2 separate regions of the Homo sapiens genome follow, and region 1 is linked to region 2. The links come from fine-mapping of genetic effects on gene expression. A gene starts in region 2. The other region holds a variant in brackets. All regions are shown on one strand. Distances are from middle to middle.

Region 1 (8,564 bases), 260 kb after region 2:
ACCAGCCGCAGGGGCTGGAGACTGCAAGGAGCCTCGAGGTTGGCTGTCTGATTGCAGGCACAGGAGAGCAAGGCGTTTGGAGTCGGAGACCCATGTTCTGGTTCTAGCCCAACTGCCTGGTTGGTTGCCCTTGGGCAAGTTCTGCACACTGAGTGTCAGTTTCCTCTTCAGCACAATGGAGATGCATAGCTGTGTGTGGGCCACAGTGAGCATGGGAGCCAGTGGGCACATCAGGACAAACCTTTGGCAAATGCCTAGCACACAGCACTCCTTGTCCAAGTCAGTCCCTTGCAGAGTGGTGTAAAGCATCACGGATACAATGTGCCTCATCAGTAATACGAAGGAGATGGGGTCACCTCCCAGCTGGACTTGGTATTATTCAGTGTGCTATCTCCATCCATCTTTAAGAGTCTGGCCTTGCCAAGATGCCTAGGGCATCTGGCTGTGTGGAACTCGGGCACCTCTGGGTGGCCAAGTGAGTTTTGTGCTTCCTCCCAAATTCTCCATCAGATTTTGTTTGCTTGCTAAACTCATGAGGAATGCCTGCATTGTGCATGTCACAGGGTTAAGGGCGTCAGTTACAGTCTAGGAGGAAGGAGAGAGCCACACCTGCCAGGGTCCCAGGGGAGCCAGGCCAGCCCCGAGAATACTCCAGAATAGAAACCAGGAGACATGAGCTCAGTGCCAGCTCCTAACCCCTGTCTTCCCTCCCTGGGCCTCAGTGTCCTCTCCTCTAACATGGGGGTCATGGTGTATTTTCCCTGAATCCCATGCAGGGCTGATGGGAGGAGGGGGAGTCAGTGACTCTCCCAGTGTGTCCAGGGGACAGTGCTGATAGAGGTCAAGACCTGGGATGGTCTAGGCTTACAGCCTGCAGCCCTGGTTGCACCTCTGGCTAGGCAGGCCTGAGTCGCCAAGGTAGAAACAAGATGAGGGGGAATTGCAATCTGAATATTGATTCTCCCTCCTCTATCCAGGAAGAGCCCAGGGCAGTGGGTTTGGGTTACAGACTTGTGGTTCAGTCCCATGTCTGGGAGCTCAGGCAGGTCAGCTGTGACCCTGCAGCCTCCATCAGTAAAGTGGAGGTGATTGTGCCCACCTGTGTGAGTTAACACTTCTTTGGCTGCAAATAACAGAAACCAGCCCCAGCCTGTGAGGTGCCTCACAGGATCCTGTGACCGTGTGGACCCTGCAGGCAGAGACGCTGCCAGGCTCTGGGTGTAATGGCCCCAGGGTCTCCAGTGCCGTCACGACCCCCCGCCTGCCTGCCTCTGGACAGCACCTCCTGCTCTCGGGTCCTACACACTGGCTTTCTCTGTTGTGTCCAGTCAAATGGTGGTGAACAGCTGCCAGCAGCTACCAAGTCCACAGTGCACAGCCTAGGACGCTGGGTCCCCTCCATGTCTGTCCCCTGTGATTCTCCCTGTCAGGCAACCACCCTAAACCAATCAACAGTGGCTTGGGACAAAGGCAGTGGGTCCAGGTCGCTTCCCTTGCAGGTGGGGTAAAGTATCGGGGATACAACATGCCTCAGCAGCAGCAGGAGACGAGGTCACCTCCCAGCTGAGGAGGGCAGGAGAGGCCGGCATCTCCACCGGAGCTGAGTATGGCTGCAGCTGAGCAGCCCTCTCCCCTCGCCTACCGGGGCACTTGGGCAAACTGCCTCCCTGCAGTGCGGCCATCCGCCCTTCTGGAATGTGGAGGAACGCCTCTACGCTCCCTCCTGCAGTTCCGCTCTGCTTGTTCCAGAACAGATGATAACAGAGATGGAGCATATGGGCCCCAAAGTCACCCGGCATTCTGGGAAAGTGACACTGTGTTACCCCGGGCGTGGGGGGAGGGGCCCGTCACTCGTGAGCACAGCTTCTCCCTTTGTTCTTTAGAAGGGCACGAGGTCGCCCCTCCTGAGCCTCCTGAGAGGAAGTGTGCACGCTTGGACTTTGGGAAGGATTTCCTCTGTCTAGGCAGCGATTTGGGAAAGCAGCCGTGGGGTGGGCATATATATGGGGAGGAGAACACTTGGAAGCCAAAATCCAGTCCTTCCTGGGCCTCTCCTGCTCAGGCCCCAGACCAAACCTCTGCCATCCACAGGGCCACACCCAGCCTGGCCTCCATGGCCCCTGTGCCCTTAGGGGTCCTGCAGGTGTGTCAGGAGCCTCCCAGAGTGCTATGAGCAGATTATGGGAAGTACCCAGCTGGGCTCCAGGCCTAGCTCCACCCCAGTCTCAGCGGGTCCCTGCCCGGGGTTGAGTGCCTTGGCATCTTCGAAGCCGAGTTTCCTCCTCCTCCTCGCAGCTCTGACAGTGCTCTGTGTGCCTCTGAGATAGACCCACGCAGGGTGTCCCCAGGGCAGGTTTCCCAACCTCGAATGAGAAGGTTGGGGGCGGGCACTGCATCAGCCTAGGATGAGGCGGCCTGAGCATTCTCCTGTCCCCCACAGTTCTGACCTGTGGTCCAGAGGGGCCATGCCGTCCCCTGCTCTACCCAGGCCTGGTCCTTGACAGCCCCTGCAGGCGCTGAGGTTGGGACAGCCAGGGTCCACATCCCTCCTGGCTTTGTGATGAGCTCGTGGCGAGGCCATGCGGCTCTTTAAGCAGCCTCTCTAGGGCTGCAGTCAAGGCTGGGGTGTGCTGGGAAAGCAACCCTGAAAGCCCAGCCTGTGCAGGTGGAGGACAGGCCCAAGAGGGGCTGAGGAAGCTGGAGGGAGGAGAGAGCTGGGGGGAGCGAGGAAGCGGCCGCTGGACAGGGAGGGAGAAGAGCTGGGGGCAGGCACATGGCGCCCTCATCTCCCCCATTCTCTGTCCTCGCTATGGCTCCCCGAGTCTCACCATGCAAGCTGCACAGTTTTGGGTAGGAGAGGAAGCCACTTGGTGTAAGTTCCTGGGCAAGAAGCCACTTGGTGAAGAGGAAGAAAAAGAAGGCTTTTCACTTTTCCTTTCACCTCTGACTGTGGCCTGGTAACCCTGGGGTTGTCCCTGCTTTTTTCTGACCTTCCCTGGGAATTCCCAGGAGGCCCTAAGATTGTGGATGTAAATCTTGGTGCTTCAGGACAGCAGAGAAGAGAACTGGCTAAATAGAATCTGGTCTGCCTGTGTGATAAGTGGGTTAGAACCAGAGGCAGGCCACAGGGCAACAGGGCCGGCCCCTCCAGAGTCCAGCCCCCAATGGAACTTCTCACCAGGAACCCAGAGATCCTGTGCACAGCCCAGCACATTCCTCCCCCTCCCCACTTCCCCTGACATGTTTGCCTTCCCTCCAATTGCAGGTGGTGACTTCTTTTTATAGGAGAGCTGTAGACAAAGGAGAAAGCTAAAAGGGATTGACATAGCCTCTGACGAGATGATTCTTTGGTCTCTGGGCACCAACTGAACCGGAAAGCTGGCAACACAGTGCCAGGCCTCGGCTGACTGGCCGTGCGAGTGATGCCGGGCAGAGGAAGGGCCAGGCAGAGTGTGCAGCGAAGACAGGCCCTCGCCCTTAAGCACCTTCCAGGCTAGTGCGAGCCTCAGGAAGAGGTGGCAGAGTCTGAGATGTGCCAGCCAGCACTCCACACGCTTGGTGCTGACTACCAGTATGTCACTGCTCGTCCCTGGGCCTCAATTATCTAGGCCGTGAAATGGAGCTGATAGCCTCCCTCGTTACCTCACAGGGTTACTGGGGAAAGAGATCAGATCCAGGCTGAGGGCAGGCCCTGGAAAGTACAATGAGCGCGGGAGTCCGAGGACTGCCTGTCACAGCCTCCTCCTCTTCCCCGCAGGGCCACCCGTTCATCGTGCAGTTCAATGATGGAAATGCCGCCGTGGTGTCCATGTGGGTGTGCCGGGCGCTGGAGGAGAGGCGGAGCCAGCAGGGGCCCCCGTGAGGCTGCCGCAGGGCACTGAAAGCCCAGGACCAGTAACCAAGGAGAACAACCCACCCGTCGCCCTTCTCCGTATGCTGCCTGCGCCAGAAGAGCTTTGCTGGGCCCTGGCTTCCCTGCCCTCGCCTTCACCTCTGTCAGCAGGTGGCCTTGCCTGGGGAGCCCCATGTGTGGCCCACCCCACCAGGCCATCCCCATACCTTCTGGTTTGAAGGCGCTGACACTGGCAGAGAGGTAAAGGGTGGGGCATTGAGAATGGAGGCTCCCAGGGTCCCTGCCCACTTCTGTTTTCCTAATGTTTTTCTCTATAAAGGGTCAGGCCCGTCAGCATCACTGATGGGAATAAAAGTATTAATG[C/T]TTTGTGACAGCCTCTGCCATAAGAGTTGTGTGGTCCAGGGGGTCTGTGACCCCCCCCAGGGCTGGGGGCAGGTGGGATCTCCACTTCAGCAGGGATGTGTGTGACAGTGCCTGCTGCCTGCCCAGGCACCTGCAAGCCTCCTGCTAGCTCCTCGCAGTTGTGCTGAGGCCCACAGCCCAGCTCCACTGTCAGATGAGAAACAGAAGCACGGAGGCATTGGGATGGGTCCCATGGCAAGGAGTAGGCCCGGATCTCAGGCCCCCGCCATGAGCTCCTTACTGGACTGCCAGACACATCCACCTGACCTGCGTGGCTGAGGAGGGAGTGGGCTGTTCTGAGAGGCCCTTCTCCACCCCAGCCCCACCCCTGCTCCTCACTGCCCTTGACCCCACACCTGCCACCTCTCACCTCTCAGGAAATCCCCTCAGCCACATGCCAGGTAAGCCTGGCTACCCCCATTTTGCAGGTGAGGAGCTGAGGCTCCAAGGGGCTCAGGATTCCACTTGAAGGTCTGAATAGCATCTCAACACGTCCAGAAGCAAATTCCTAATCCCCCACCCCACCCAGACCTCCTCCTACTGCTTTCCTGTGTCAGTAAATGGCATCTCCATCCTCCCAGTGCCCAAGCCATTTGGCACTCCCTAAAATGCCAGGACATGGCTTTGACTCCCTTTTCACACCCACATCCAGTCCTGCTGTCTTTGCCTTCAAAGAATATTGGTTCCATCACCCAAAATTCTCTCTTGACTCCAGCCAGTTGGTCTTCTTGCTGCTCCTTGAACATCCGGGCACATAACCACCCAGGGTCACAGCAGAGACGTCTAGCCATGGAAGGTTCACACTCCCTCCACAGGGTACCGCGTTGCTAGGGAGCCACTGCCCAGCTGGGCTTCCATCTCATGGGTGGGATTGGTGCTATTATAAAGGGTGAGTTTGGAGCCAGGCACAATGGCTCTCGCCTGTAACCCCAACACTTTGGGAGGTCGAGGGGGGAGGATTGCTTCAGCCCGAGTTCAAGACCAGCCTTAGCCAACATAGTGAGACCCTGTCTCTAACAAAACTTAAAAAATTAGCAGGGTGTGGTGGTGCATGCCTGTGGTCCCAGCTACTTGAGAGGCTGAGGTGGGAGGATCTCTTGAGCTCGGGAGGTTGAGGCTAAATGAGCCGTGATGGCACCACCGCACTCCAGCCTGAATGACAGTGAGACCCTGTCTCAAAAATAAATAAAAATAGTGAGCTAGGGATCAATTATTTTGATGGGGTTTTATATGTTACTAGCAGCTAGTATTATGCCAGCTAATGTAGGCCTTTGCATTTGGTACCTGGAGCATGCTTCCCTCATGCATCCACATGGCTCACCTCTATACCCTTCAGGTCTCAGCTCAAATGGCATCTCAGTGAAACCTACTTAACCACTCTAAAATCGCACCCCTCCCGCACCTGCCCTGGGGCCGCCTGTGCCCATTGCTTGCACCATTTTCCTCTACTGCATTCAGAACTGTGTGATACATCACTAATTTTACTTATTTTCTCTTCTGTCTCCTTCCTCTTCTGCCCTTCATTAGAATGGGGTCTCCACAAGGGCAGAAATTCTAGTCTTTTTCACACTGTATCCCCAGTACAAAGAACAAGGCCTCAGCTCTGCACAATAAATGTGTGTGGGTCAAATGGCCAAAATTGTGGAGCTGTGACTCCCAGCCCATGTGCAGTCCAGTGCCCCATGGAAGGGCACCCTATGTGAGGCATCATGTGCTTCCCAGGGCAGAGTCGGCTCATCATCTTTTTAGTAATGCTTTTCAAGGCACAGGCTCCCAGCTTTCTCTGAGCACCTGCCATTTCCCTGGGGTTAGATGGTCACAGAATTGGATGGGACCCCGGCCAGGAAGACCCTGGCCCAGTGCTCAGGGCAGGGAGAACTGCGGGCAGTGCACATGATGGACTTTCTCAGGAAGAGGCGCTCAGAGAGTGGGGAAAGCTTAGGGGCTCCCACACGGGGCTGACTACCTTGGAATGTGAATCAGCCACCACCCAGACTAAAGCGTATCCTTATTTTGAGAAGATTCATCCAGCAAACCTGTCAGCCCCAAATCCCAAGTCAAGGGCGGTAGGAAAAGTGAGCAGGTACCTTGCTGGGCAGTGTGCTTAGGGCTCACTGTATCAATTCGTTTAATCCCCACCATGATCCCAGGAGGTAGATGGTGATACGATTATTCTGCCCGTTTTACAGATGAAGAAACTGAAACACAGAGAGGCCAGATGACTTACCCAAGGTCACCCAACAAGTAGCAAAGCACTGTTTGGGACCCAGAGCCCTGCTCTTAGCCACAGCTCTGATAGTCAACTCCACACACACAGCACACATGTGCACATATGTACACACAGACACATGCCCTGTCCTCTAGCACAGAGGCTCCCAAACTCTGGTTTGCCAAGATAATGTTAGTACCTTTGGGAACGGGCCAAGGATCTCTTTGACCAGCTCCCCAGGGATACAGGTGCAGAGCGCCCCACAACAGCACTGAGAAACACTGCTCCAGACGCATGCTTTGGCCTGGAGACCAACTTTCAGGGTGATCTTGAACAAAGCACGTCTCCTGTCTGAGTCTGTTTCCTCATCTGTCAATGTAGGGGTTGACCTCACGGTGTCCTGGAGCTGCTCCCAGTCCTGATGTCCCAGAGCAGAGTTCTCACCATTTGGGTTCATCCTGTGAGCATCCTTGCCCCCAAATTACATCACCCACATGCATGCACGCACAGAATTTTGTTCACAACTCTAGGGTTTGTGGAGACCCTGGAGCTCACTCACTCATGACCCCCTGTCAAGGGCCCCTACTTTGGGGCAGCCCCCAACTATAAATTCCCCTCTGCCTTGAAGTCGAGAAGATGGGGAGCTGAGTGACCCCTGAGGGGTTCTCCTGCTAACACCCCTCTGGCCGGAGGCAGGTCCCTCTTTGGCCTGTTGAAGTGATTCCTCTAGTCACCGTTGGGGGCCAGAGGCCAAGCTGCCCCTGCCCTCAGAGGTCGCGGGAAGGCTAAGACCTAGAACACTGCAGTGCCTGAGACTGGCCTAGGCAGCATGAGCTCTTTCCCTGCTGGAAAGCCACCCCCGCCCACCCTCACCCCATCCATGTGGCTAATTCCTATTCTTCCTTTCAGGCCCCTCTCAAACAGCACCTCCTCTTTGCTGCCTTTTTTTTTTTTTTTTTTTTTTTTTGAGACAGAGTTTCGCTCTTGTTGTCCAGGCTGGAGTGCAATGGTGCACTCTCAGCTCACAACCTCTGCCTCCCAGGTTCAAGCGATTCTTCTCCCTCAGCCTCCCGAGTAGCTGGGATTACAGGCATGCACCACCATGCCCGGCTAATTTGTGTATTTTTAGTAGAGATGGGGTTTCACCATGTTGGTCAGGCTGGTCTTGAACACCTGACCTCAAGTGATCTGCCTGCCTCAGCCTCCCAAAGTGCTGGGATTACAGTCGTGAGCCACCACGCCTAGCTGGCAGCTTCTTTATTTCCTTCTCTGGATATAGACTGTGAGCCCTTTGAGGGCAGGGATGAGGCTAACTCACCTCTATCCCAGCACCTGGCCCAGGGCCTGCATAGGGAGGGTGCCTGTGGTGTGGGACGGTAGGAGGGAGGGAAGGTAGGGTGCAGAGATGGGGCCCTCAGACCTGAGGCCCTTGGGGCCTGTCACTGTCCTGCTCGAATCTCTTGCTCCAATCCTCAATATCGCCCACTCACTTTCTAACTGGAGCTTCTGAGAGACGAAACCCTCACTGGAGGCAGCCTCAGGCCTCTCAGACCTTCAGGGGAGCCTAGAAGGAAGTGTTTCCAGGACAGGAGGATCCTCACGGGGCCCCAGTTCACAATGACAGGCAGGTGCCTCCTCTGCTTCTAGGTCTCTGGCTTGAAGGCCAGGAGGCCCTCTCACACTCAGCCCATCGTCCTTGCTTCTGTCTTTGGTTTTCACATGTGGGGAATGCAGGATACAGAATCCCAGGGCTTTGGAGATGTTCCAACAGGTCCACTGGGGCAGAGGAAGGAGAGGTGGAACCCTCTTCTCCAGATGTGGCGGGGACCTTGTGGTCCAAAGTAGTGTGACCCAGAGCCCCTACCCAAGGCCCAGCCCAGTTAGGGGGTTGGTCAGGCCAGTGAGGTGAAATGGATGGTACAGCCTCACTGAGGGAAGCTGCGGGTGCCCTGCCTGAACAGACCTGCATCTTTGGGGAGGCATATGCTTCCAGGTGTCTGCACACTCAGGCCAGTGGAACCTCCAGGTGAAGCCTCGGGATGATGCTGGGTCTGCAGGCTGGCAGCCCCTGGGGCCCCACAGGGTGGTTCAGAAGGGACT
Region 2 (8,549 bases):
TGATGACACAGCAAGAGTACATCTTAAAAAAAAAAAAAAAAGTAAGGAAATGCTGACACATGTTACAACATGATGGACCCTGAAGGCATTATACCAAGTGAAATAAGCCAGTCACAAAAAGGCAGATACTGGATGATTCTATTTATATGAGGTATCTAGAGTAGTCAAATTCATAGAAATAGAAAGTTGATTGGTGGTTGCCAGGGGCTGGAGGGAAGGGGAAGTGGGCAGTTGTTTAATGAATATAGAGTTTCAGTTTTGCAAGATGAAAATCTGGAGATTGGCTGTACAACAGGATGAATGAATGTATGTAACACTACTGATCTGCACACTTCAAAATGAGTACAATGGTAAATTTTATGTGTATTTTATCACAAGGAAAAAAATCACTAGACATCTAACTTTTCAGTAATGTGTCTATTTTCAGTTAAATTTGCCAGTTAACTGAAGCCAATATAGGCCAGTTTTCATATTCCTTAGTGTTATCACACTGGTGCACTTACTGTTTTACCATTTTCCCTTCTGATTTCATTTTTCTGTTAGCATTTACTACTATCTAACATATATTTTACTCATTTGTCTGTGTTCCCCATCAGAATATAACTTCATGAGGGGAGGGATTTTCTATTACACTTAGTGAAAAGTAAATCCCTCAAGTAGGAACACTACAAGTAAGCACAGTTTTTTTTTTACAGTAAGTTTGCTTAATGGCTAGTAAACTATCTCAGCCAGTACCTGAGTGACTATTCTGACTTGTATCATTTAACAAGAAAAAAGGCCTGGCGCGCTGTCTCACGCCTGTATTCCTAGCACTTTGGGAGGCCGAGACGGGTGGATCACTTGAGGTCAGGAGTTCCAGACCAGCCTGGCCAACATGGTGAAACCTCGTCTCTACTAAAAGTACAACAATTAGCTGGGCGTGGTGGCACATACCTATAGTCCTAGTTACTTGGGAGGCTGAGGCAGGAGAATCGCTTGAACCTGGGAGGTGGAGGTTGCAATGAGCCGAGACTGCGCCAGTGCACTACAGTCTGGGTGACAGAGTAAGACTCCGTCTCAAAATAAATAAATAAAATAAAATAAAATGAAAAAAAGTACTAAATGCAAACTTCTTAAGATCACATGCAACTTCGATGTTAAATACTAAATATTCCTTAAATTTAGACAGTATTCAATTTGGTAAAGATCAGAAAGTTATATTTTGTCATTTATGATATCAAGTGGAATGTATTATCAGTGATTATGATGCTTCTCGCAATGAGAGTTATAACTTTCTGGAAAAATCCTTGCTCAAATCATCAAAGTTAAGATTTCTTACTACATAAAGGCTATGAAGAGCTGACGTGTAATTATATTGGCTCTGCAAATATTGGAACAGAAATATGAGTTTGCCATTAGTGTAAGAAAAGCTTCAGAATATGTATGCAAATTTGGCAAATTGAGTTGGTTTTCCCCACGGTACTTCGAATAAAAGAGACATTTTAACAAATCACAGGTTCATAGAAAATCTCTAGTTTCGTGGTCTATTTTCTAAAATAATAGGAAATGAACTTTTAATAAAAGTACATGAGGACTTTTGATGAACGGTTTATTTTTCACAGAAGTGAAGTGCAGGTGAAAAGGGGAAATTCCTAGAATATCTGAAGGATCTGACTAAATGAATTTCTACCTAAGCTATTGATTTACAGTAACTTAAAATGTGATAATTTATCTCCTACAATGGCCTTTCAAATTAAATATAAAAGTAACTCAGAGTAAAGTATGCAGAAAAAATTTTGGTATTGTAACTGAAAATGACCAACATTAATTTTTTTCTCTCACATTAATCAAGCACCTTACTGTTAGAAGGGAAACTGACAAGCCTCCTCAACCGAGTTTATACAAAATTCAACCCCAGAAAGTAAAGCCAATTCGTGCACCTTCATAAGAAAGAAATAAAGGACGAACCTACACATTACAATTTGTAAAGAAACTTCTGTAGAGGCACCATCGTTCTACAACCTTATGCACTTTAAAATCTGAGGTAACAAGGCATTTGAAGATAACCAAGGTTGGCCGGGCGCGGTGGCTCACACCTGTAATCCCCCCAGCACTTTGGGAGGCTGAGGTGGGCGGATCACGAGGTCAGGAGTTTGAGACCAGCCTGGCCAACATAGTGAAACCCAGTCTCTACTGAAAATACAAAAATGAGCGGGCACGGATGGCGCACGCCTGTAGTCCCAGTTACTCGGCAGGGGTTGGGGGCTGGTGGGGGTGGTAGTGCTGAGGCAGGAGAATCGCTTGAATCCGGGAGGCTGAGGTTGTGGTGAGTAGAGGTCGCGCCGTTGCACTCCAGCCTGGGCGACGGAGCGAGACTCCGTCTCAAAAAAAAAAAAAAAAAAGATAACCAAGGTTTATTGCTACTTCCGTGATATCACCATATCACCAACTGCGTAAGCAGTGCTATTTAGTTGAAAATACATGGACTAGACCGAATATTTCTGCAACAGTTTAATAAGAGACGATGATGCGACTACTGCAGCTGTCCCCAGGCAATTAAACTCTTCGGCGAATTTCTTTACTATTGCTTTTGAACAGGGAACTGTTTGCTATTTTAGGGCACTCGTGCGGTAAAGAACTTCACTGAAAAATGCAAATATGTTTTGCTAATGTGGGAGAAAGATGATGATCCTCTGAACCTGTGACTTGGAAGGGGGGATAAAAAAGAACTATTTCTTGAATTCTTGCCTTGCTCTTGCTGATTCGATGCACACAACCCCACGAACATTCAGATTCATGGCTTGACAAAGTGGGGATAACCGGGAGCTGCAGCCCCGTCTTTGAAGCTTTTGTAAAGACAAACGGTCTGCAATGTTAAGCCTTAAATTGGCTTTTGGCGGACTCCAGCCTTTTACCCTTCGTTTGGTAGATGTTTTCACCTCGCTGTCATTAAGCAGGGTCAGGAAATGGAAGGGCCGTGACCGGGTCGCCGCGGGCGCTCTGTGGGCGATGAGGGTCTCCTGAGCGAGCAAGACCAGTCTCTCCCCGACTCGCCACGCGCCACGCGCCGCGCGCCGCGCGCCGGTTCCTCGGCTTCCCACGCCGGGGGCGCATCCTCCCGGGAGCTGCTGCCCTTTTCCAACATGGCGCCGCGGGAGGCGGGTCCCGCTCGTCGGCTCCCGGGGTTCCGGCGCCGCGCGTTTTGGTTCCGGAGTAACAGTGTCGCCGCCGCCTTCCTCCTCCTCCTCTCGCCGCTACCGCCGTCGCCGCCGCCGCAGCCGCCGCCAGTCCGCGCGGCCTCGGGTGGCCGGAGCTCAGCCTGCGCGCGCCGCGCCCTGTGTCTCCGGGTGGGGCAGAAGACTCGCCCCTTGAACCTCCCGCGGGGACTCTCCGTGGTGTGGCGGCCCTGGGGCTCTTTCTTAATAGCCCCGGACTGAGTCCCCTCCAGTCGAGGACCCTCTCCTAGTCCACTGACGAGCGGTGGACACCTGCCGCTGTATCTCCCCCAAACCGAGTCCTTGCCCTGCTGCCTCCTCATACCCACACGGCGGCAGAGACCTTCACCATAGCGTTCGCTCAACTCCAGAACCTTCCGACCTCCGCTAGTTCCTGCGGGCCTTTGCCCGCTTCCCGGTGCACCCTCCCCGGGAGACACCTCAGACCCCCGACAGCCTGGGCAGGCTCGGTGCCTGCGGGTGCGTTCCTGATCACCCCTCCCCTCTTCCCTCCCCCTCATCCTCCATTCCCTTGTTTTCACCCTCTGTCCTCTGCCCGTCACTCCCCTTGTCACCTCTTGGAGCCCCCTCCTAACCAGCGGCCAGTGGGTTTCCCATACCCCAGGATGTGAGCCTCTTTAACCTGTAATGCTGTGGCTAGCCCTTGGCCCCTTTCCTGCCATGGAGAACCAGGTGCTGGTAATTCGCATCAAGATCCCAAATAGTGGCGCGGTGGACTGGACAGTGCACTCCGGGCCGCAGTTACTCTTCAGGGATGTGCTGGTGAGTGGTAATCTCAGTGTCCGGATGCCAGCAAGGGGGACTCAGGGACTTGAGTAGTCAGCACCTTGACCACTGGTGACCTGAGCCAGTGGCAATGGCTACTGCTGGCTTCCTGTGGAGGCAGTTTTATTGCTTCAGGCACAGCATTGATAAATTGCAACCACTAAAACCTGGCAAATGTCTAGGACCCTGGGGAGATAGATCAATCTGACTGAACCCCTGCCCTCAGAGAGCTCATGGCCCGGGCTGGGACACACATATAGACACAACCACGCAAATGCAAACTGCTGAATCTAGAAGAGAGGTTTTTTCCCCCCAAGTGTTTCGGGGAATGTCCTTGGACAGATTCCAGCCTTGTTTTTCTACTGAGTTCTCTGAACTTGGTGACCAGCTGAGAAAGGGAAAAAGGACAACTTTAACTTACCATGTTTGAGCACACTGTTTCATTAATTTATTTTGAGACAGGGCCTCACTCTGTCGCTCAGGCTGCAGTGCTGTGGCACGATCTCGGCTCACTGCAGCCTCTGCCTCCTGGGCTCAAGCGATTCTCCTACCTCAGCCTCCCAAGTAGCTGGCACATGCCATCACACCTGGATAATTTTTGTATCTTGTAGAGACGAGGTATTGCCATGTTGCCCAGGCTGGTCTTGAACTCCTGCGATTTGCTTGCCTCGGCCTTCCCAAAGTGCTGAGATTACAGGTGTGAGTTACTGTGCCCAGCCTGAGCAAACTTAAAGCATCATTGAATGTAAGACATTTTACTTAGAAAAAAATGCTAACCATGACAGTATGACACATCATCCGTTATTAAAATGAGTCCAGTTTCAGAGACGGTAAAAGTAAGGGAAAATGTGCATCTTAGAATTGGTGATATTTTACATTCAGATTTTTCAGAATATATTTCAAATAAAATGATGGAATTTTAGAGCAGAGTGTAACACTGTAGGTGGCCTGTTCAGCTGATGTTTCTTTTTTGCAGATAGTTACTGAGGAGCAGTGAGGTGAAATGGCTTTTCCAAAGCTGTGAGCTCCTGAGTGGGAGAGTCAGTACCAGAACTAAAATTTTGTTTCATTGACTTAGTAGGTTTCTTTCCCTACATGTTGCAGCCGCTTCTAATCTTTCTGGTATTCATTTGAGATAGACAGGGTGCCTTGTGCCCATTCTACATGCAGAATAACTGAGGCATGGAAGACAGAAGCGGACATTCCGAAAAGCACATCACTACCTGCAAGTTAAGAGTGGGCAAGGTGGCAGGATCTTGGGAAGAGGAAGATTTGTGATGTGATTTTTCATTGTCTTGGGTAACTTAATCAAAATTTGATTTCTATAACTTCATTTTGAGTTCTAGATGTTACTGACTGCCCAGGCCATGCAGATTTTTGGGTGCCTTGACCAGGAGCTTTCCATATTGTGCATCAAATGCCATCCTTCTCTTTGTATCCGGAGTTCTCCACACAGTCATGCACATACAGATTTCCCCTCATGATAAGGCCCAGGCTCCTTCATGTGGTCCTCTGGGCACATCTGGATTGGCCCCTGTCTGCCTGGCACCTGTGTCATCTCTCTTCACGGCCCCATAAACTTCTGTGCCTCACTTACATAGGTTGATTTTCATTTCTCCCAGGTGTCCAGGCTGTCTGCACTCTGCTCTTCACCGGTCAATTCCCACCTGTCCTTCCAAGCCAAGTTGTGCTTTTTCTCTGTGTCATTCTTGGTTATGTGCCCCACCTCTGTGTCGTCACAGCTTTGTGTGGGTCCCCCAGCAAAGCACATGTTTGATCATGATTCTTTGTCTCCTCCACTAGATGGTAAACTTCTGGAGGAGATAGATATGTTTGTTTTTGTTTCTTCATAGGACCCCAAAATACTTGTTTAAGAAGGGAGCTTAAAAGAGGATGCATGCAATTATGGTTCTGTGGACAGAACACTAGGTTTAGAGTCAAGGAATTTGGGTTTAATTGCAAGCTGTCCCACTGACTAGGCAAGTCAGTCTACCTCTCTGAGCCTTAGTTTCCTTATTTGTAAAACAGGGAAACTTGTACCTTCCTCAAAGACTTGGAAAGATTATGTGAGATTGTGACTGTGATGAGAAAGATGGGTTTTCTCTTACTCATTTAAAACAATGGAAGGTTGATTATTATGTGATTATATTATTTGGTTATGTGATTATTTCAAGAATAGCCCAGTGTTTAAGACCACAAACTCTGGAGCCAGGTTGTTTAACTTGCAAGTTGTACTACTGGGGCAAGTATCTTCTGTATCTCAGTTTCTTTATTTGTGAAAAAAAAGTTGGGGAGGGGTGAAAGTAATGCCTACCTCCTAGAGTTCTGAGGACTCCTTGAGTTGATACATGTAAAGCACTCAGAACAACTTAGCACATAGTAAGCGCTCCATTAGTGTTGTTATTATTGATGGGATTGTTATTATAAGGGATTGGACTTGGGTCTTCTGTTTCTTGAGCATCTCTAAGTTGTACCTGGCTCAAGGCTGACTGGCTTAACAGGAAACACGAGTGGCCCCACCACTAGAGCTCAGCATGCCAGGTGTCTGCACACTTTTGGCTAGGTAAGCCCAGGTGGAGCATGTTTTGTCAGAAAGGCCTGACGAAGGACCTGTGGCAGTGGGTGTTCAGTGCTATCTCCTAGTGCTCCATTTTAGCAAATGTTCAAGCCCAGATCATGGCAGACTCCTGTGATCTGTTCTCCAGGTTTACTTCATCTCTTCATCAAGAAAAGGCAAGAACCAAGAGACACGTCAGCATCTCTGGCTTGGAACCTTAAACTTTAAAGTCACGTGGAACCTGGAAGAATCCCCTCATCTAATTCAGACTCATTTCGAATGAAGAGGCATGAACCCCACAGGGGGAAAATACCTTGCTAAAGCCACCCAGCTAATTTTTGGCAGAACCTGACACAGATGCCAGAAGCAGGTTGTAGTCACCGAGTCAGCCATAACTGAGTGTCTCGGACCTGAAGTCAGCAGTTGAGGGCTCCAGTCACTGTGCATCAAATAGCTGGGAGACCCTGGGCAAGTCAGTCGGTCTCTCTGGGCCTTGTCTTTTGTCTGAATCATCAGGGACTGGCTGAACTATGGAGGCTGACCTGACCCTCAAAGGTAGAGACATTTGGGTCTTCTGTTTTGCAGCTTTCTGTGTTTCTCTTTTTCCCTGGAGACTGAGTTCCTAGTTTTGGGAAAACTATACAAGAGGTCTGGTTAGTGTGTGATGAGAGAGAATGCCCAACCCTCTCCCCTCTTCTTTTTGTATTCTGTGGTCTCCAAGCTCAGATTTCCCCTCATCTATAAGACTTCTGGGCCAGGAGTGGTGGCTTAGGCCTGTAATGCCAACACTTTGGGAGGCCGAGGTGGGTAGATCGCTTAAACTCAGGAGTTCGAGACCAGCCTGGGCAACATGGCAAAACCCCATCTCTACAAAAAATGCAAAAATTAGTGGGGGCTTGGTGACACTCACCTGTGGTCCCAGCTATTAGGGAGGCTGAGGTGGGAGAATCTCTTGAACCTAGAGGTCGAGGCTATAGGGAGCTGTGATTGCACCACTGCACTCTAGCTTGGGTCACAGAGCGAGACCCTATCTCAAAAAAGAAGAAAACACACACACACACACACACACACACACACAGATTTCTGTCTAAACTGAGTCTGTGATTTTTTCCTTTCTCCTGAGTTACCAAATACTATTGGCTGTTTATGTCTTTTGTTTGGTGCTTATACTCTTAAGTGTTTTATATTACTAGTCTTTCAGGTTTGTCTTTATCTCTGTAACCAGTTTATAATCTTCCTAAAGTCAAGGATCAAGTTTTATTGTCCTGTAGCCTACAGCTTTGTGATCTTTATGCTCGTGGCATGTTGTAGATGCTCAATGATGTTTTGGATCTGTCAGATATTTGTCTGATTTATTGAAAGGAAGAAGAAAAGTATCAAAAAATGGTCATCATCAAAATATGTAAACTTCGGTTTTCTTTTTTCTTTTTTTTTTTTTTTTTTGAGACAGAGTCTCGCTTTGTTGCCCAGGCTGGAATGCAGTGGCGTGATCTCGGCTCACTGCAACCTCTGCCTCCCAGGTTCAGGTGATTCTCCTGCTTTAGCCTCCTGAGCAGCTGGGATTACAGATACACACCACACATCCAGCTAATTTTGTTGTATTTTTAGTAGAGACAGGGTTTCACCATGTTGGCCAGGCTGGTCTTGAACTCCTGACCTCAAGTGATCCACCCACTTCGGCCCCCCAAAGTGCTGGGATTATAGGTGTGAGCCACTGCGCCCATCCCGGTTTTCTTTTGAAACCTTCTTTAGGTTAGTTAGGTACATGTTATATTGTCAAGAGCAGAAGAAGGCCGCTTGGAAATAAGTCACTTTAGCTGGAAAATGTATATAAAATCATCAAATGTACCCTGCTTTAAAATGACTAGTAGATATTACTGATGTTTAAACTTCTTACCTCTTTGTCATTATGATTGCCCCACTTTATTTGCTTTAAAGAACAAAATGGTTGGTTGTGTTCACATGATTCTCTCACTCAAGTTTGCTTTGTTCTTTCTCCCTTTTCCTCGTAT

What was found.
Region 1: its variant is fine-mapped to the expression of MAP2K5 in whole blood (INTERVAL, PIP 0.94).

The regions. Positions count from the first base shown.
Region 1 is chr15:67,802,889-67,811,452 of GRCh38, forward strand. MAP2K5 (mitogen-activated protein kinase kinase 5) reads left to right here. Exons shown (of 22, transcript NM_145160.3): 22 at 3,758-4,226. The coding sequence ends at 3,862. Among named protein-coding and RNA genes, the nearest start is that of SKOR1, 18 kb to the right of the region's middle. RefSeq lists enhancers at 896-1,758, 1,759-2,619. The variant C/T (reference allele first, on the strand shown) is at 4,217.
Region 2 is chr15:67,539,494-67,548,042 of GRCh38, forward strand. It overlaps MAP2K5 (mitogen-activated protein kinase kinase 5), which reads left to right and starts at 3,210. Exons shown (of 22, transcript NM_145160.3): 1 at 3,210-3,977. The coding sequence starts at 3,843. It overlaps MAP2K5-DT (MAP2K5 divergent transcript), which reads right to left and starts at 3,137. Exons shown (of 1, transcript NR_186334.1): 1 at 1,575-3,137. RefSeq lists enhancers at 27-116, 2,150-2,650, 2,303-2,352, 8,314-8,549 and a silencer at 3,226-3,345.